3 separate regions of the Homo sapiens genome follow, and all the other regions are linked to region 1. Evidence: fine-mapped expression QTL. A gene starts in region 1. Each other region holds a variant in brackets. All regions are shown on one strand. Distances are from middle to middle.

Evidence for each region.
Region 2: its variant is fine-mapped to the expression of GSDME in whole blood (TOPMed, PIP above 0.99).
Region 3: its variant is fine-mapped to the expression of GSDME in whole blood (TOPMed, PIP above 0.99). The same link has a PIP of 0.9 or more in blood mononuclear cells and monocytes.

The regions. Positions count from the first base shown.
Region 1 is chr7:24,754,049-24,759,606 of GRCh38, reverse strand. GSDME (gasdermin E) reads left to right here and starts at 2,143. Exons shown (of 10, transcript NM_001127453.2): 1 at 2,143-2,211. It overlaps LOC124901820 (translation initiation factor IF-2-like), which reads left to right. Exons shown (of 3, transcript XM_047421177.1): 2 at 1,670-1,945; 3 at 2,038-3,283. The coding sequence ends at 2,751. RefSeq lists silencers at 994-1,143, 1,954-2,533, 2,544-2,593 and an enhancer at 1,644-1,873.
Region 2 is chr7:24,716,422-24,721,979 of GRCh38, reverse strand. It overlaps GSDME (gasdermin E), which reads left to right. Exons shown (of 10, transcript NM_001127453.2): 4 at 2,762-2,933; 5 at 4,606-4,726. Among named protein-coding and RNA genes, the nearest start is that of GSDME, 38 kb to the left of the region's middle. RefSeq lists enhancers at 1,320-1,419, 2,917-3,106, 3,227-3,426, 3,713-4,300. The variant C/T (reference allele first, on the strand shown) is at 2,461.
Region 3 is chr7:24,725,104-24,730,661 of GRCh38, reverse strand. All of the region lies in intron 3 of GSDME (gasdermin E), which reads left to right. Among named protein-coding and RNA genes, the nearest start is that of GSDME, 30 kb to the left of the region's middle. RefSeq lists enhancers at 2,025-2,134, 3,005-3,224, 3,545-4,226, 4,227-4,910. The variant C/T (reference allele first, on the strand shown) is at 3,297.

The sequences.
Region 1 (5,558 bases):
GAGCATTCCAGTTTGTGCCTCAATTCCCTCATTTGTAACTTGAAACCCCCAAATAGTTGTAAGGATTAAATGAGCCAATCATTGCATGTAATGTACTCAGAAGCATGCTTGGTGACAGTAGACAGAAAGTGCTACATAAATAATAGCAGCTGATATTATTACTATCTTCCTCGGGCATTTAATTAAAAGACTAGGCAGGACAAAAAAAAAAGTGACAGAATTTGAAGCCACTTAGTAACTGTTGCATCAAAAAGTTCACCCACTCTGAATTACAAGTGGTAACTATCTAGATAGAGGACTGGGGCTTTTTGGGGTGGGAACCTGATGAGTATGCTGTTTATGAGGATATTCTTAAGGTCAGTACCCTAGCGGGGGATGCAATAATCTCTGGCAACAAGCCAGAATCATCACCGTATAATTTTATAATGATAGAGAACCAATAGCATACATGAAAAGTCTCTTGACAGGGCTGGGATTCTTTCTTTCGTCCAACATCTCATCACATTAGCAAATCAGGGGCCTACCACCATGGACCATTTCGAACCACTTCTTCATCCAATAACCACTAATTGTGCACTTATTTTGCGCTGGGTACTGCAAGGATGTGTACTGCCCCACAGTCTAGGTGGAGAAACAAACAAAAGGATTCATTTCTTAATTCAACAATTATTTACTGGATAGCTACCATGTGTCAAATCCTAAACTAGGTGCTGGGCATAGGGAACAAAACAGACCAGCTGCCCTCATGCTGCTGACATTTTACAGGAGAGGATAATACATGAAATAAGAGGCACACAGTCTATCAGATGGTGGTGAGTGCAAAGAGAAAAATAAAGCAGAGGAGGAACTAGGAGGTGTTCCCGTGGGTGGGTGGGCAGCACTTTTAATTTGGATAGTCAGGAAAGGCTTTACAGTGAGGTGGATAATTGCAATCTAGAGATATGTTTAAAGCATAGCGGGGCCCAAGGGAAAGCGCTGCCGGGCTTCTCTACCTGCCCTCCCCGAACAGCCTTTAAGACAGCCACACAACTCCATACTGTGTGAGCTCTCGCAGGGCAGAAATTTCATTTTCTCTTACTCTTTGCTCTCAGCTTAGTAGAGAGCATTGCACAGTGAAGACGATACACTGACTGAAAGTGTCACTGAGCAATGGGCTCGTAACCTGAGGCACACAGAAACCAAACTGTGGCACAGGCTTTTGAGAAAAGAAAAACTTCTATTGCCAGTCAACTGGCAAGGAGACAAGAGGCAAAGCTTAAATCTGTCTTCTGGACCTGGGAGCGGGTCAGGCGTTTTTGGCATTTCTAACCAGTCCCAGGTGATGCCAATGCAGCCTTCTGCGGGGCGCGCGGTGTTCACAATTAGAAAGCTTTCCCTCTTGCACACGCCCGGGAGATTTTGGCTCTGCCTCGCTGTAACAACTTAAGTAATGGTTAATCGGTTTCAGCTGGTCCTAATGTTACAAAAAGAGCTAATATTTAAGTCAGTTCATCAGAAAGCAATGTTTGAGCACCAGCTATGCTGAGATTCCCTCGTTCAGTATTCGTTGAGCACCCAGTGTGTGAGAGCGCCTGGTTTTGCCCTCAAGGAGCTTAGAGTGGAGTTTACAGGAATGAATCACTGATTAGCGGCAGGCCTAAGTGTGGGCACTGTCGCACCACACACCCAGATACTACTCCAGGCACGGGCATTAGGGGCTCCCACAGGCTGGACAGGCCTTGGACTTTCCTGGTTGAACCGTGAGGCCGCGGTGTCAGTCCACACTCCACTGTGGGTGGCGGGTTCGGCCCCGCGAGGAGGCGCCGCTCTCAAACCCCACGGTCCCGCGCAGCGAAGAGGCGAGGCGGCCGCGGAAGGCAGGCGCAGCCCACTCTTCCCGAGAGGCCCCGACATCTCCCGGGTGAGTCCCGAAAAGCGCGCGGGGACTCCGGCTGAGCGCTGGGCCGTCAGCAACCCGGCTCCCAGAGAGTCACACGAAGGAGGGGAAGCGGCTCTCTCTGGGGCTTCTGGGAGGTCTGGCCCGGGCCCCTCCCGCAGCCTCCGGCGGCCAGTCCCGCGGCTCTGGGGCGCCCGGACCGAGCAAAGGTCCCGGCGGGCGGGCCCTCTCTCCGCCCTCCCCAAGCGCCCGCCCCCCGCCGGCCCAGCGCAGGCTCCTCCGACTCCGCCAGCGCAGGGGGCGCGGCTGCCGGGGACCCAGCAGCGGGCGCGCGGGTAAGTGCGCGGCGGGCGCGGGCTGCGGGATCCGCTCCGGGCTCCACTCCGGATCCTCTTTGGTCTGTTTGGGTGTCCCGGGCCGGGGGCAGCCGAGGCCGCGCGGCGCTTTCTCTCTGGGCCACCCTCCCCTCGCTCCTTCCTAGGGGAGACGAATCGATTGGCTGCCCGGCCGCCGGAACGGCAGGTCCCGTCGCTCCCCTCGCCTCCCGCATTCCCGGCCCGGTCCCCTCCCATCACCGCGTCCCGCCCCAACTCGCAGTCAGCATCCCCTTCCCATCCTCTCCCCGTCCCCGCTGCCACTTCCTTCCTTGGATGTTGGAAGCGCAGCTGGTATTTTCGTTCTCCCAACCCCCCAAACCCCCCCTCCCCATTCGTTCATCCTTTGTGTTCCGGTCTCTTCTCTGGGTGCTGCGGAGGCTCTCCCGGCTCGGGGGCGTGTGTGCAGGGAGGCGGACCGCGGAACAGATACGGAGTTCAGTCTCTCTGGACGGAAAAAAGTCCCCCTCCACTTTGCTCCGGTATCTAGAGAGCTCCTAGCTTGGGGAGGAGGCCAAGCCCCACTCGGTGTGCCTGGCATGCGCTGGAATGGCTCTCAAGAGCTGCCCGCGTGGCTTCCTTTGGTCTCCATTTGAGGACCTCTGACCCTTTCCAGAGCCGCTTGCCGTCTGCACCCCGAGGGGAAAGACTAGAGGGCACCTCTTAGAAAAGCGCTGGTTGTGGACTGAACACACCGACCACCCACTCCTCCAGAGTCTACTCTGTCCAGAATAGTGAATGGGATAATGAAAGGGATGGATGGCTTGCGGTCGCTGTCCTCGAGACGCAGGCAGGTGGGGCAAGTCCAAGTGGAATGAAAGGAGTGCTGTGGGGTTGGAGAAGCAGCTGAAGAGTGAAATTAATTGTCTTCACAATCTACCACCACCAAGCTCTTTTTCTAAAGGAGAAGTTGAGCCCAGACCATTAGGTAGATCTGAGAGAGAAAGGGCCCAACCCCCTAGCCACGGTCCCTTGGCTAGGTTCTTTGTTATTGTTGAGAGAGGGTCTCGCTCTGTCACCAAGGCTGGAGTGCAGTGGCACTATCCTAGCTCACTGCAGCCTTGAATTCCTGGGCTCAAGGGATCCTCCCATACACCCGTAGCTGAGACCGCAGGTGCCTGCCACCACACCGCATCTTCTCTATTCTTACCCAGACTGCCCTCTGTTACCCACTCCACTTCCCCAAAGCCTTTGGCGCCTCACTCTCCTTCTCCTTTCGAGCTCCTGCCTGTCTTATGACCATCATTGCGTTCACATACCGATTTTTATTTTAGAAAGAAATGATGAAATATTAATTTGTCTTCTCATTAAAAATGAGCTCAGGTACTGGGCTGTAGGGATAGGAAGATAAAAGATGCCACCTCTGTTCTAATTTAATAGACCCAATTGCACTTTGCTATCTAGAAAACTAAAACTAATTCAAAGTATGCTGAAATTGCTAACAATGAGACAAGTAGACAAGTACAGCCATGTTTCGTCTCCCCAGATAGAAAGGAAATGACACATGTTCCATAGCAATGATTTCTGTTTCCACCGTAACTGAGGTTTACCTTTTTCAAGGGCACTTTCTTATGTTACAGAATGAGTCATATGAGGCCCACATTAGAACAGAAAAAAAGCTGAACAGGGAGCCAGCAGAGTAGAGTGGTCAAGGGCACAGGCTTTGGAGTCAGGTGGACCTCGGGTGGAATCTTGGCTCAGCACTGATTCTCTATGTGATGTTCAATCCCCTCCAGTCAAAGACCTCCAGGAACACACTGTCAGTTCAATAAGTTGGTTTATTTCTCCTTAAAGTGAGGGACACCATGGGGAACCCTGAGATGTCTCAATAAGAGGTGTTAGAAAGGACAGAGGATTTGGGCATGTAGTAGGTGATTTGGGGAAAGAGGGCTTTGCTCTGAATTGGATGTGGTCAGGGAAGCAGGGGAAGTTCTGTGATTGAGTATCCTCGTAAATCTCGTCAAAAATGAGAGAAGGCCAGAGAGAGGCTATAGCTGTGATTGGTCAGGAAGCAGCAGTCACTCATTAGGACTGCTAATGATTGGAAGGGGGGTGGTATTTGATCATTTTTGTGCTTTGAACGTGTTCATGTTTTGTCTGTGTTCAGGCATGATTACAGAGAAGCCTTGTTTTCATGTTGATTTATCATGACAAGACTGGCCTTGCCTGATGTTGATGCTCTGTGCCATTATTCATGGTCAGCAACACCAGGGCCTGATAGTTCCAGGCCAGTTCCCTGATAGGGCTGCTTCTTTCTTTGCTGTGATCTTGGGCAAGTTACTTAACATCTTTGAACCTCAGCTTCCTCACACTGCCTACTTCAAAGAGTTATTATGAAGATTAAATAAGGAAATGTGTATAAGGCAGTAAGACCCATGCCTGGAACATAGCAGATACTCAACAAACAGTTGCTCCTCTCTTTGTCTAGAGTATTTGATGTTGAAGTTTCTTTTCTAGAACTCTTCAGGCAGAGGCCCAGGGTTCAACCAGAGCTGCTTTTAAGAAGAATCCTGAATGGAGTGTGAGAAAGAATGAGGTTTCTCTTCTAATTTAAAAACTAGATAACTCCATGACTGAATCAGTCTTAACAGGCAGTAGTGAATATAGTTATCTTCTCCTGCAGTCATTACCTTGGCAACTATTTTTAAGATTCTTTGTTCCCAGTGGCTCCAGTTGGCTGTGTGCTTTGCTAACTTTGTGTCATTGTCCTGCTTTCTTGGTGTCTGCCCCACAAGGTCTCTTGTCCAAGAGTCTGACTCAAGCTAGGATATCCTTACTGCATTTGCTTTGGCCTTTTTAGTTCTCATCTGCTTTCAGCTGGGAAGCCAGACTAAGGACTGTTTGCTAATACAACTTTTTTTTTTTTTTTTTGAGACAAAGTTTCGCTCTTGTTGCCCAGGCTGGAGTGCAATGGCAGGATCTTGGCTCACTGCAACCTCTGCCTCCCAGGTTCAAGTGATTCTCCTGCCTCAGCCTCCCGAGTAGCTGGGATTACTGCCTGCCACCATGTCTGGCTAATTTTTGTATTTTTAGTACAGACCGGGTTTCACCATGTTGGGCCAGGCTGGTTTCAAACTCCTGACCTAGGTGATCCGCCCCACCTCGGCCTCCCAAAGTGCTGGGATTACAGGCATGAGCCACCAGGCCCGGCTGCTAATATAACTTTTAAGGCTCTGTGCGAGAGTCCGTGATCTATGTAACAACTGTGAAGTGCAGTGAGTTTTTAGGCCATGAGCTATTTGAGCATGATGCCTCCTGAGGCCATTTTCATCTTCTCCCAAATTGGAGCATTGTGAAAATGTTAATCC
Region 2 (5,558 bases), 38 kb after region 1:
TGGGGGTGCAGGGAATGCTTCCCCGAGGAGGTGACCAATGAGTCAGTGAAATGTGGCCATCAGGGAATGTGTGCCAACGCCTCGGGGTAGGCACACACCTGGCATTTTTAAGGAGTAGTAAGAAGGCTGGAAGATAAAGTCAACAGGGGGCAGGGCAGATCACATGGGGCCTCAGCCTGGGAACGCACTGGACATGGGATATAGCCATTGAAGGCTTTTAAGAAGGGAGTGATGTGGAAACGTACCTCTGATTCAATTCAGTGCCCCATAATTCCCATGCAGGGCACACACTGTGGCTTTGTTTTGTGAGCCTCATAGAGGGACACGGGAAGGTGGGCGGAGCCAGCTAGTGTTTGTGTGGCATTTAACTCTGTGCTCGGCACACCCTAATGGCTCACTGCATGCATGTCATCTAAACCCTGACGGAACCCCATGAGGAGGGGGCCCTGTTACCAACAGTTCATGCACGAGAAAACCTAGGTGCAGAGGTGGCCCTTCACTCGAGCTTGCCCAGTGGGAGGGCAGAGCTGAGATCCGAACCCCAGCCCTGCAGGCTCCAGGGTCCCTGTTTCCTGTTCCTTCCTGGAAATGGAGTCTCTCGGCAGCTTTGTGGTTGTCATCAATGTATTTTTATCACGTGTGAGACATTTTTATAATTTGAATTTCCTTAACCAGTACTAAGATTGAACCCGTTTTTCCTATGTCTTATCTATTTGTTATTGTGGTAAAATAGATGAGACACAACATTTACTGTTGTAACCATTTTTAAGTGTAAAATTCAGTGGCATTAAATACATTCACCCTGTTGTGCCGTCATCTCTACTCTGCATTTCTAGAACTTCTTCGTCACCTCAACTAGGAACTCTGCAGCCATCAGGCAGCGAAGCCCTGCAGCCCCGGTAACCTCCAATCTGCTTTCTGTCATTATGAATTTGCCTGTTCCAGATATTTCATATGAGGAACCACACAATATTGCTCATTTGTCCCTGGAGTGTGTTACTTGGCATAATGTCTTCAAGGTTCACCCATGTTGCAGCAGATGTCAGAACTTCACTTCTTTTTTTTTTTTTTTGAGACGGAGTTTCGCTCTTGTTGCCCAGGCTGGAGTGCGGTGGCACAATCTCAGCTCACCGCAACCTCCGCCTCCCGGGTTCAAGCAATTCTCCTGCCTCAGCCTGCTGAGTAGCTGGGATTACAGGCATGTGCCTGGCTAATTTTGCATTTTCAGTAGAGACGGGGTTTCTCCATGTTGGTCAGGCTGGTCTCGAACTCCCGACCTCAGGTGATCCACCTGCCTCGGCCTCCCAAAGTGCTGGGATTACAGGCATAAGCCACTGTGCCCGGCCCAACTTCATTTCTTTTTATGGCTGTATGATATCTCATTATATGACTATAACACATTTTGTTTCTCCATTCATCTGTTGATGGACACGTGAGTTGTTTCTATTCTGGGCAGGTGATTACATTGAGATGGGACTTTCCTAGCTACTCACTCCAGTTCCAGGGCTACTTTCTGAAGCCCAGAGAACCTGAGTCTGTCTAGGATGGGTGACCCAGCATGTGTGTGGTCAGGGATGGGTGCTGAGCTTTTCAAGGTAACTAACCTCTTAAAAAAAGACCAGCATGGATACCATAATTTTTCTTGTGCTGTCACCAACTCTAGTTTGGTTCTTTTCCTGTCCATTTCATAGAATCATAGTATTGAATGAGATCTCCAGAGAAGTTATTTCATCATTTGCTTCTAAGCATGAAATCATCTCCTGTAAATAAAAATTTAGTCTGTTCTTGAAAGTTTGCAGAATTTCAAGTGGCTGGGTGGGAGCCCCAAATCTCTGCTGAGTGACTCTGGATAGGCCATGCATAACCAGCCTCAGTTTCCCCATGTGTAAAAAGACATCAAACCCCTTCTAAGAGATGAAACATCTTTCCTAGACAGGTTAAGAAGTTTCCTCTTAGTTCAAATCTAATTTCCTTCTTGCTACTCATACTTTAGGCCTATTCCTTTCTCAATGAGAAGCAATTGGTCACCATTCCTCCCATCATAATCCTGTATTCCCTGGGCCATGGCTGTGACGTCTGACATCCTTCAGCTCTGATTAAATAAAAAAGTGGAGTTTCCAGGGTCTAAGGTACATGGATTGCAGTTTCCTTCCTGGTTAGTTTTCTTTTCTTTTCCTTTTTTTTTTTGAGATGGAGTCTTGCTCTGTTGCCCTGGCTGGAGCGCAATGGCATGATCTCAGCTCATTGCAAATTCCGCCTCCCAGGTTCAAGCGATTCTCGTGCCTCAGCCTCCTTAGTAGCTAGGATTACAGGTGTGTGCCACCACGCCTGGCTAATTTTTGTATTTTTGGTGGAGACAGGGTTTCACCATGTTGGCCAGGCTGGTCTCGAACTCTTGACCTCAAGTGATCTGCCTGCCTCAGCCTCCCAAAGTGCTGGGATTACAGGTGTGAGCCACCA[C/T]GCCTGGCCCTGGTTGATTTTCTTTTCTTCTCCTTGACAACCGGCGCTGCTGTTTGACTGAAAGCCCCCTTCCCTCTGGCATCTAGCCTGGCCCCCAGAGGCCCGGCAGCTCTGAGGTGGCCTCAAGAGAGTTTGGTTTATGTCTTTCCAGGTGACCTGCCACCCCTTTCATCATGAGGAAATCAACAAAGCCTGGCTGTCACCTGCTCACTCCTCAGCTGCCTGCTGTGCAAGAGGAAATTCACACTACACCAATGTCCCCTGAGGCACTAAGCCACTCACATCCGTTTTTCTTTTTCAGAACAATAAATCTGAGAAACCCTGTGCTCCAGCAGGTGCTGGAAGGAAGGAATGAGGTCCTGTGCGTTTTGACACAGAAGATCACGACGATGCAGAAGTGTGTGATCTCTGAGCACATGCAGGTCGAGGAGAAGTGTGGTGGCATCGTGGGCATCCAGACCAAGACGGTGCAGGTGCGTGCAGTCGGGCTGCCCTGCGTTCATGGCTGAGCAGTCCTGGAGACCTTGGTTGGGGGCCTCTTTGGGTGGTGTCTTCATTAGTCAGGACTCTTTCCGTAGCAAGTTAACAGAAACCCAACTCACGTTGTCTTAAATGAGCAAGAGTGTATTGGCTCATGTAGCTGAAACACTTGGGGAAACTGGCTCCAGTCACTGCTGGATCCAGGCCTTGAGGATATATAGGGAGCTGCTTTCCCTGGGTTGATGCCCTCTCAGATGGGCTCTCCCTATGGTGCTGGCAGCTCCAGGCTTGCTCCTGATTTGCTGCAACTCCAGGGGTGAGGGGGGCCTAGGACTGGGTCTCACCAGACCGTCCCGGGATATGTTCATTCCTGAAGCAGGGCAGGGTTGCAGGCACTCGAATGGGCCAGGTGGGCTGGCGTCAGGTGCTCTTCCTGTGGGCGGCAGATGTTTCCCCAAGAAAAATGAACACACAGGCACTGATCAGGCCAAATGCAAAAGAATCCCTAGAGCCTCTCAGAGCTGGGGCTCTCACAGTGATTACTTGGAATTAGCTGCTGCAAATCCTTTGTGGGTTGAGTTAGGGCAGGTAAGATCTAGCTATCTCTACATAGATTCTTCTAGATTAAGTTATTGACAGTCTTACCAAGCTGATCTGTGAGCCAGTACTAAACTTCAATGGACTAGGTGGCCATCAGCCCCAAACTCTTTCTCCTCCAGCTTGCCATGGTGGCTGATATTTTCTTAGAGATTTACTTCTTGGGATGACTTTTGGCTTTTTCTAGAGGAACTCAGAAAGTTGTATTTGGAAGGAGCTGGAGGTAGAGGTCTGGGGCCAGCACTCTTACTGGGTTGGGGCTGGGTAGCAGCGAGGGAGGCGCCGATGGGAGATGGCTCAGGCCGGCCCTGCTGGTGCTCCTGCCACAGTCACTTCCTGCCAAAGTGTTGAAGCCTTTCAGAGTCAGGAGGCCAGCTGCCATTTCTCAACCCAAAGCAACACACTCTGACCAGGATCAAGTTGCTAAGAAAAGTTCTCTGATTGCCAGTGTTTGGCCAACAAATAGATTCTCATCTTCCTCTCACCAGGACATCGTGGGAAGGGGTCCTGTTTGTGAGAGTGTTTAAAGGCAGGAGCTTGGTGCCTGACTTCTTGGCATTTCCTGCCTCTCCTCCCTCCGGCCTCTTCCCACTTCCCTCTCTGTTCCTGGTTTTATCAGCACTGTGCACCATCTACAGGGGTCTGGAGTGATATGCACGGGGTAGGGGGCCCTCTCAGCTAGGTTCTCCCAGTCCAACTTGGCTACTGTTTAAGGTTTTCATTAGGATTTCAGTTGTTTCCATAACCTGTGATGGAGGGAATTGGGAGGTGATCTTACGTATCGTATGATCTTTGCACAGCACTGTAGACCTAACTTCACTGTATCCCACGCTCTATAATCTCGCTTTGATGCCACCAGGTTGGCCGTTTACTTGGGAATTTGTGTACTGATGCCAACAAGGATTGAATCCCCCCATCCCCCATGCTGGCTGGCTCCTCTGTTCCACTCGGTTCTGTGGACATTGCTCAGCATCTCTTATGTATAAGGCACGAGGCTGGCTGCAGTGGGGAACAGAGCAGCTTGGAGAGCCCGAGTGCACAGGTGGGAGTGTGCGCTTTTGCCCACAGGTGTCAGCGACGGAGGATGGGAATGTCACCAAGGACTCCAACGTGGTGCTGGAGATCCCAGCTGCCACCACCATTGCCTACGGTGTCATTGAGTTATACGTGAAACTGGACGGCCAGTTCGGTGAGTGCCACCTCCTATGGGTGCTGAGGGATCCCCAGCAGAGGATCCCTCAGCAGAGGGACTTGACTGCTTTCCAGAGGACTCGACTGCTTTGGAGACTGTGGGAAGAGAGGGAAAGAGGTCTGAAGAGCGTAGATTGTCCCAAGACATGGTCCCTGGACACATGGGCTGCACTGGGGGAGGGGTGTGGTGAGGGATGCCTGGAGCAATGCCACCCTCTCCTCCAACATTGGTGTGGGGCAAAGTTCCACCAGCACAGTAGAGGGCTGGGCTGTGTCCTCTGGGCATCAACCTGGGCTCTGCATCAGACACACTGGGCATCAACCCCGGTGCCATGATGTCCTATGAGGTCTCAGGCAAGTTGCTGAATCTTGCTGAGTCTTGGCTTCCCTGTCTCTGGAAGGTGAAGGGCATTTCTTCACAGGGCTGTGTGAAGATTTAATGAGATGAGGCCTATGAAGCGCCTGGCACAGTGGTCATTTATTAATTCCTCCACCTTTGCTATTAATAGCATTATCATCATTATTGTTACCCCACCTCCTCTCCACAAGTATGAAGCCAGACATGCTGAACTTGACTTTCCTCTGCTGATCACGAGTGTGTTCAAAGCGCAGAGACCCAGCTGTTGTCACGGAAGAAAATCCAAGCTTTGGTTCAGCGTGTCTGCTCACTTTAGGTGTTCACAGCCCCTTCCCTCCTCATGTTCCCAATGAGAAGAGGTTGTGTTCACTCATGAAAGCTGTGTGACCGCTCCTTAGGGACATGAGTGGGTAAATGTAACATAATAAATTGTGAAGTTTTTTAGGTGTGACAATGGTATTATAGTTATATT
Region 3 (5,558 bases), 29 kb after region 1:
TGCATTTTTAGTAGAGACGGGGTTTCACCATATTGGCCAGGCTGGTCTTGAACTCCTGACCTTGTGATCTGCCCATCTCAGCCTCCCAAAGTGCTGGGATTACAGGTGTGAGCCACTGTGCCCAGCTGAGCTTTATTTTTAAAGGCAACTTCAGATCTTTTTGGAACTAGGTAGGATTTAAGTCCTAAGAAGAATCATTCAAGTACTATTTTCTTCTAAGACTGATAGGCATTATTGTATTTCTTCAAATCCAAGATGTCATCCATTGAAAGAGGCACCATTATTCTATGTACCATTGAGAAAGAACACTGCCAATTAAACTATGCCACCTATCAATTTTAAAACATCCTGATTTCTGAGATGTTAAAATGTAAAGAAAAAAATATGTGTCTCAGAACTGATGAGCTGCAGTGTCTACAGTCAGGATGGCTGGGATGAGTCAGGAGTTAGAATTCAGGTGAGCAGATGTTTGTTCCACTTGGGCTGTTCATATAGTGTTTGACACAGAGACTCAACTCATCACTGCACTTCTCATCTCTCTGAACCCTCCAGTGAGCTGGTGGGTGAGGCATGAGTCCAGTTGGTTTAGCCAGGAATCTGAATATCAGACATAGCTCCTTCTTCACCTTCTCTCCCACACCTTGTCTCTTACCAGTTGATTCTGCCTCTTAAATATCAACCTTATCTGTTCCCATTCCCCCAGTCTCATGACAGTTTCTCTGGGAAATGGTGCAGGCCTCCACCAACCATCTCTTACCTGTTCTCGTCTCTCCCCTTCCAGTTGATTCTCCACAGGGTAGCCAGTCGGATCCCCTTACTGCCCAGCCATGCCTTCTGTGCTCTCCCCTGTCCTAGGAGGATGCCCACAGGCTCCTCTGTGCAACAGAGCCATGCTTTCAATCTCTAGCCTAATCTCTCACCAGTTGCCCTCACATCCTCCAGGTCAGTCGCTGAGCTAATTTCAGTTCCTGGGATTAATACTCCAGGCTCCTTCTACCTCCAGTCCTTGTCTGATGTTCACTCCTCCTGTCTGCACAGAGGCATGAAGGACACACACAGACTCACTTCTCCTGTGTCACCCAGCCAATTCCTCAGTATTCCTTAGGTTAGACCCCACTTCCTTCAGGAGCCACATCACCCCTGGTGGCATACTAACCACGCCGTAGGGTCAAGTGTGTCGGAAGTTGCCTGCGTCTGTGTCCGTTTCCCTCCTGGAACGCCCTGCCTCCTTTGTTGTGGGGTCTGGCGCAGTGCCTTTGGCACACTGAGCCCAGTTTGCTTGAAAGGATAATTGGTTTATCTTTATTCTACAACTGAGGAGCCTGAATGTGGAAATTAATTAGTTTGCCTAGATTCAGGATTTAAAACCAAGTTCACTAAACACATGATTTTTCCGATCCAACTTCTATGCACAGAGCTTGGAAACAGACACATGTTCCAAGGGCTTTGGCGTGAAGTCACTTCTGGGCATCAGCTGCGTTTGGTTTATCATCTTCCAGGCTTGCTGCATTTCATCCACTGGTTGCAGTTAATTAATTACTCGTCTAAAGGGCTGAACATCTACAGGTTCTCAGTCATTTTTTCCTTTCTCTTTCCAGGGGTCGTCGTATGTGAGTAAGATAAGGTATTAGAGACTATAATGTGGACAGAGGCGGAGCAGCCACAGTCTGCGGGTGACTTGGTCACTTTGGCAACAATGTGCAGTGAGCATTCTGCCCCAATTTTGATTTTCCCAGCATTTTACAATCCTGAAGTCATCTACATTACAGCCAAGTGACAGAGAGAGAAAGAGCAGGGCTTATCTCACTGTGTTGGAAGTGGAGGCCCAGGGCACAGGAGTTGAGGTTTCTAGAGATTTCCTGCCCCCGGCTGTGGGCTGAGCATCTCTGATGTGTGGGAAGTTTCTGTTATGAAACGTGGTTGAAATGGGGACTGCTAGTACCTGCGGGGGAGACAGTGGGCGGCTGCTTTCGTTTCCAAGAGGATCCACTTCCTGACTCTGGGAAGCTCTCATGGGATGGAGCAGAAAGACTGCCAGTTCTTTAACAATCAAGCATGCATTAAGCGCCTTCTGTATGCAGGGCCCAGGAAGGTTCAGGAGGGAGAGGCAGATGGGCGCAGAGCTTCGAGGGTGGATGGTGCTGAGCTGCATTCTCACCCAGCCCCTTGGCTTCTGAGTTCTTCGTGCTTCTTGTTGCTTTCTGAAATAAGGATGATGGTCACTTCATATACCAGTTAGGGTGTCTGGTTGCAAAGAACATTTGTTATTATCTCACATAAGAAAACATCTCGAAGAGGGTGCGTCCCGGTTGACTGAATGGTTAACGGCAGAAGGTCAGTTCGGTGGCTCTGTGGGCCCCTGTGGCAGCCGCCATCTGTCCTGGCAGCTCAAGTTCTCTTGGTCCCTAAATGGCAGCCACATTGCAGACAAAAGGTCCAGAGGCAGAAAAGTGGCCTCTTCTTTGTGTCCCTTTTTAAGAGGGAGAAAAACTTGAGAACCCCTAACAGATTTTCCTCAGGTCTCATTGGCCAGAATTGCCCCCGATTCCTGATAAGAAAAACGGAGTGACCAAGAATGGCCGAGAGACAAATCAAGACTCATTGGCAGGGCTGGGTGCACCCTGTCTCTTCCTCCCGTTACAGCCCCCCTAGCTCCCGAACAGTGCTGGGGACGGCAGCTAGTGGCACCCCCGACTCGTAGTGTGGGAGGGTTTTGCAGCCTTCCCGGTACAGGATGCTGGGGACAGTTCCTGCAGAAGCAGCACAGATGTGGTTTGAGCGCTGCTCTCCTGCCTTCGTTGTCAAAAAGCTTACAGTCTTTGAAAAGGGTGAATGGAGCCTCCCTTGGAGGGGAAATCGGCAGATGAAGGAGGCAATGGTGTGTGTGTTCCAGGATTTTAGGGGGGCAGTTACTGAAATAAAACTCTGCCATCTCTGTAGACTGGAGGAGGTTGGTTATCAAGAGAGAAGCAGACTTTCCCACTTAATGAAATGTCACAAAGGCAAAGCCAAGGAGTTTACAGGCAATGTCTGTGGACCTAATTTTCCTACTCTACAGCTGGTGTGTGAACACACGTGTGATCCTTTGTAAACTGTAGTTTTAGCCAATAAATCAAAACCCTTGGGAGAAGTTCTGGATTTACTAAAGCCTTTATCATCAATACATATCTCTGTTTCTGTGGGTTAGTAATTCTTGCTTAATATTCCTTGAGCAGCAGGCTGGCCACCACCTTTTGGCTCTCTGTCATGTCCCCATCTCTGTTTCTGGGGAGATGTTGAAACCAGCTCTGGCAGTA[C/T]TGCACCATTTCCTCAGTCTGCATTTGTACCTTTCACTTTTTGTTGTTCTTTAGAAGAGTGTAGTGGAAAAGCACACTGGTCTCAGAGTCAGAAGATGCAGTTCCTGATTTTGGCACTGCCACTAACAGGCCATGTGGTTCAGGTGGGCCTGTCACCTCTCTGGGGCACATTCTTCACTAATGAGCAGAGACACTGGGTTAGATCTAGGTGATCAGGGCCATCCCCCTCCCATGTCCAAGCAGACACTGCCACTTAATCACAGCTTTCTTCCTCCTTACTGTCTTCCAGCCCACACTCAGCCTTAGAATCCTTTTCCTACAGCCAGGCAGTAATAGCTGATGGATTAATCAAGGTGAAAATAAAGATGAACCTGAGTTTCTGCCCAGAGCTAGATAATCCCCTTGGGTCCCTTCTAGTTTTATAATTTCTCCACAGCAGACTCAACAAAAGCTCCTGCTCTGTCATGATGTCCCCTGGGGTTTGGAGAGCCTTACCAGGCTCCCCAGGGTTTCCATTGGAAACTCTTCCTCGAGGCCATTGGTTTTTTTTTTTTTTTTTTGAGACGGAGTCTCGCTCTGTCCCCCGGGCTGGAGTGCAGTGGGCGATCTCGGCTCACTGCAAGTTCCACCTCCCGGGTTAACGCCATTCTTCTGCCTCAGCCTCCCGAGTAGCCAGGACTATGCCGGGCTGATTTTTTGTATTTTTAGTAGAGACGGGGTTTCACCATATTAACCAGGATGGTCTCGATCTCCTGACCTCGTGATCCGCCCGCCTCGGCCTCCCAAAGTGCTGGGATAACAGGCGTGAGCCACCGCGCCCGGCCTACCATTGTTACTATCAAGGGTTTTTGTGTAAGAGGACCCTGCTAGTGGTGGCTGCCTTGGCCTCTTCCCTGAGAAACTTGCATCTGGCCTGGTGCCTGGAGCATAGCAGAACTCAGGTATTTGTGGAGATGAATGAAGGAGAGTTGAAGTGTGGGGTCTGCATGACAAAGCTCGCCCTCCTGTGTCTCTGCAGGAGGCATCCCCGGGACCTCCTTTATGCTTTGGTAAAGAAACCTGCTTCCCTCCTTTTGGATATTGTCAGACTTTTAAAAGTTGTCTCTGGGTTTCTCCTCTGTGAGTTTGCATTTTGGCTCTTGAAAGTCTTAGAAGCAGAGAAAATGGAAATTAAAGCTTCAGGCTGGGAGAGGAGGCGGCTTCATTAGGGCTGGGCCTGGGGAGCTGATGGATGCTGGAAGAGCTGGAGCCTCCCTTCCTGCTGGGCTGCTCTGGTCCCCAGCAACCACGCTGGGCTCTGAGCCACGCTTCCCTCCCTCCATCTCTGCCTGCCGCCTCCCAGCAGCTCCTGCCTGGTCTCCTTTTCCAGCCATCTCTCGTCCTGTATCATGTAGCTGCTGTCTTGAATGTATCCGCGTCTTGTATCCAACTCCTGTCCTGTGTCCATGGAGCCATGCTCTTAATTGCTTTGAGGGTCCACTTCCTTAAGGGAGGGGACCACCCCTCATATTGTCTTATGCCCAATTTCTGCCTCCAAAGAAAGAAAAAGTAAAAACTAAAAGGCAGAAATGAAATCCACAAGCAGACAGCCCGGCGTCACACCCTGGGCCTGGTCGTTAAAGATTGACCCCTGACCTAATCAGTTATGTTATCTATACATTACAGACACTGTATAGAAAAGCACTGTGAAAATCCCCATCCTATTTTGTTCCAATCTGATTAGCAGAGCATGCAGCCCCCAGTCACGTACCCACTGCTTGCTCAATCGATCACGACCCTCTCATGCGCACCCCCTTAGAGTTGTGAGCCCTTAAACGGGACAGGAATTGCTCACTCAAGAGCTTGGCTCTTGAGACAGGAGTCTTGCCGACGCTCCCGGCCGAATAAACCCCTTCCTTGTTTAACTTGGTATCTGAGGAGTTTTGTCTGCGGCTCGTCCTCCTACACCTGGCTGAGGGCTCCCTTATAAAGCATCCTGAAAATTCTGGCCATTTCTTTGACCACCCTGGAAAGGGGTCTTGACTTGCCTTCCCTGCCAATAGTGGAAGGAAAAAAACATTTACAGAGCCCCTGCCATCTGCTGGGTAGAGTGTGGGTCATTTAATGCAAGATCTCACTGAACGTAACCCTCATAGCAAATTCTCAGTTTACAGATGTGCAAACTAAGCTTCAGGACTGGAGCAGTAGCTCAGCTAGGAGGAGATTGAGTTAGTCTGTTTGCATTATTATAAGGAAATACCTGAGACTGGGTAATTTATACAG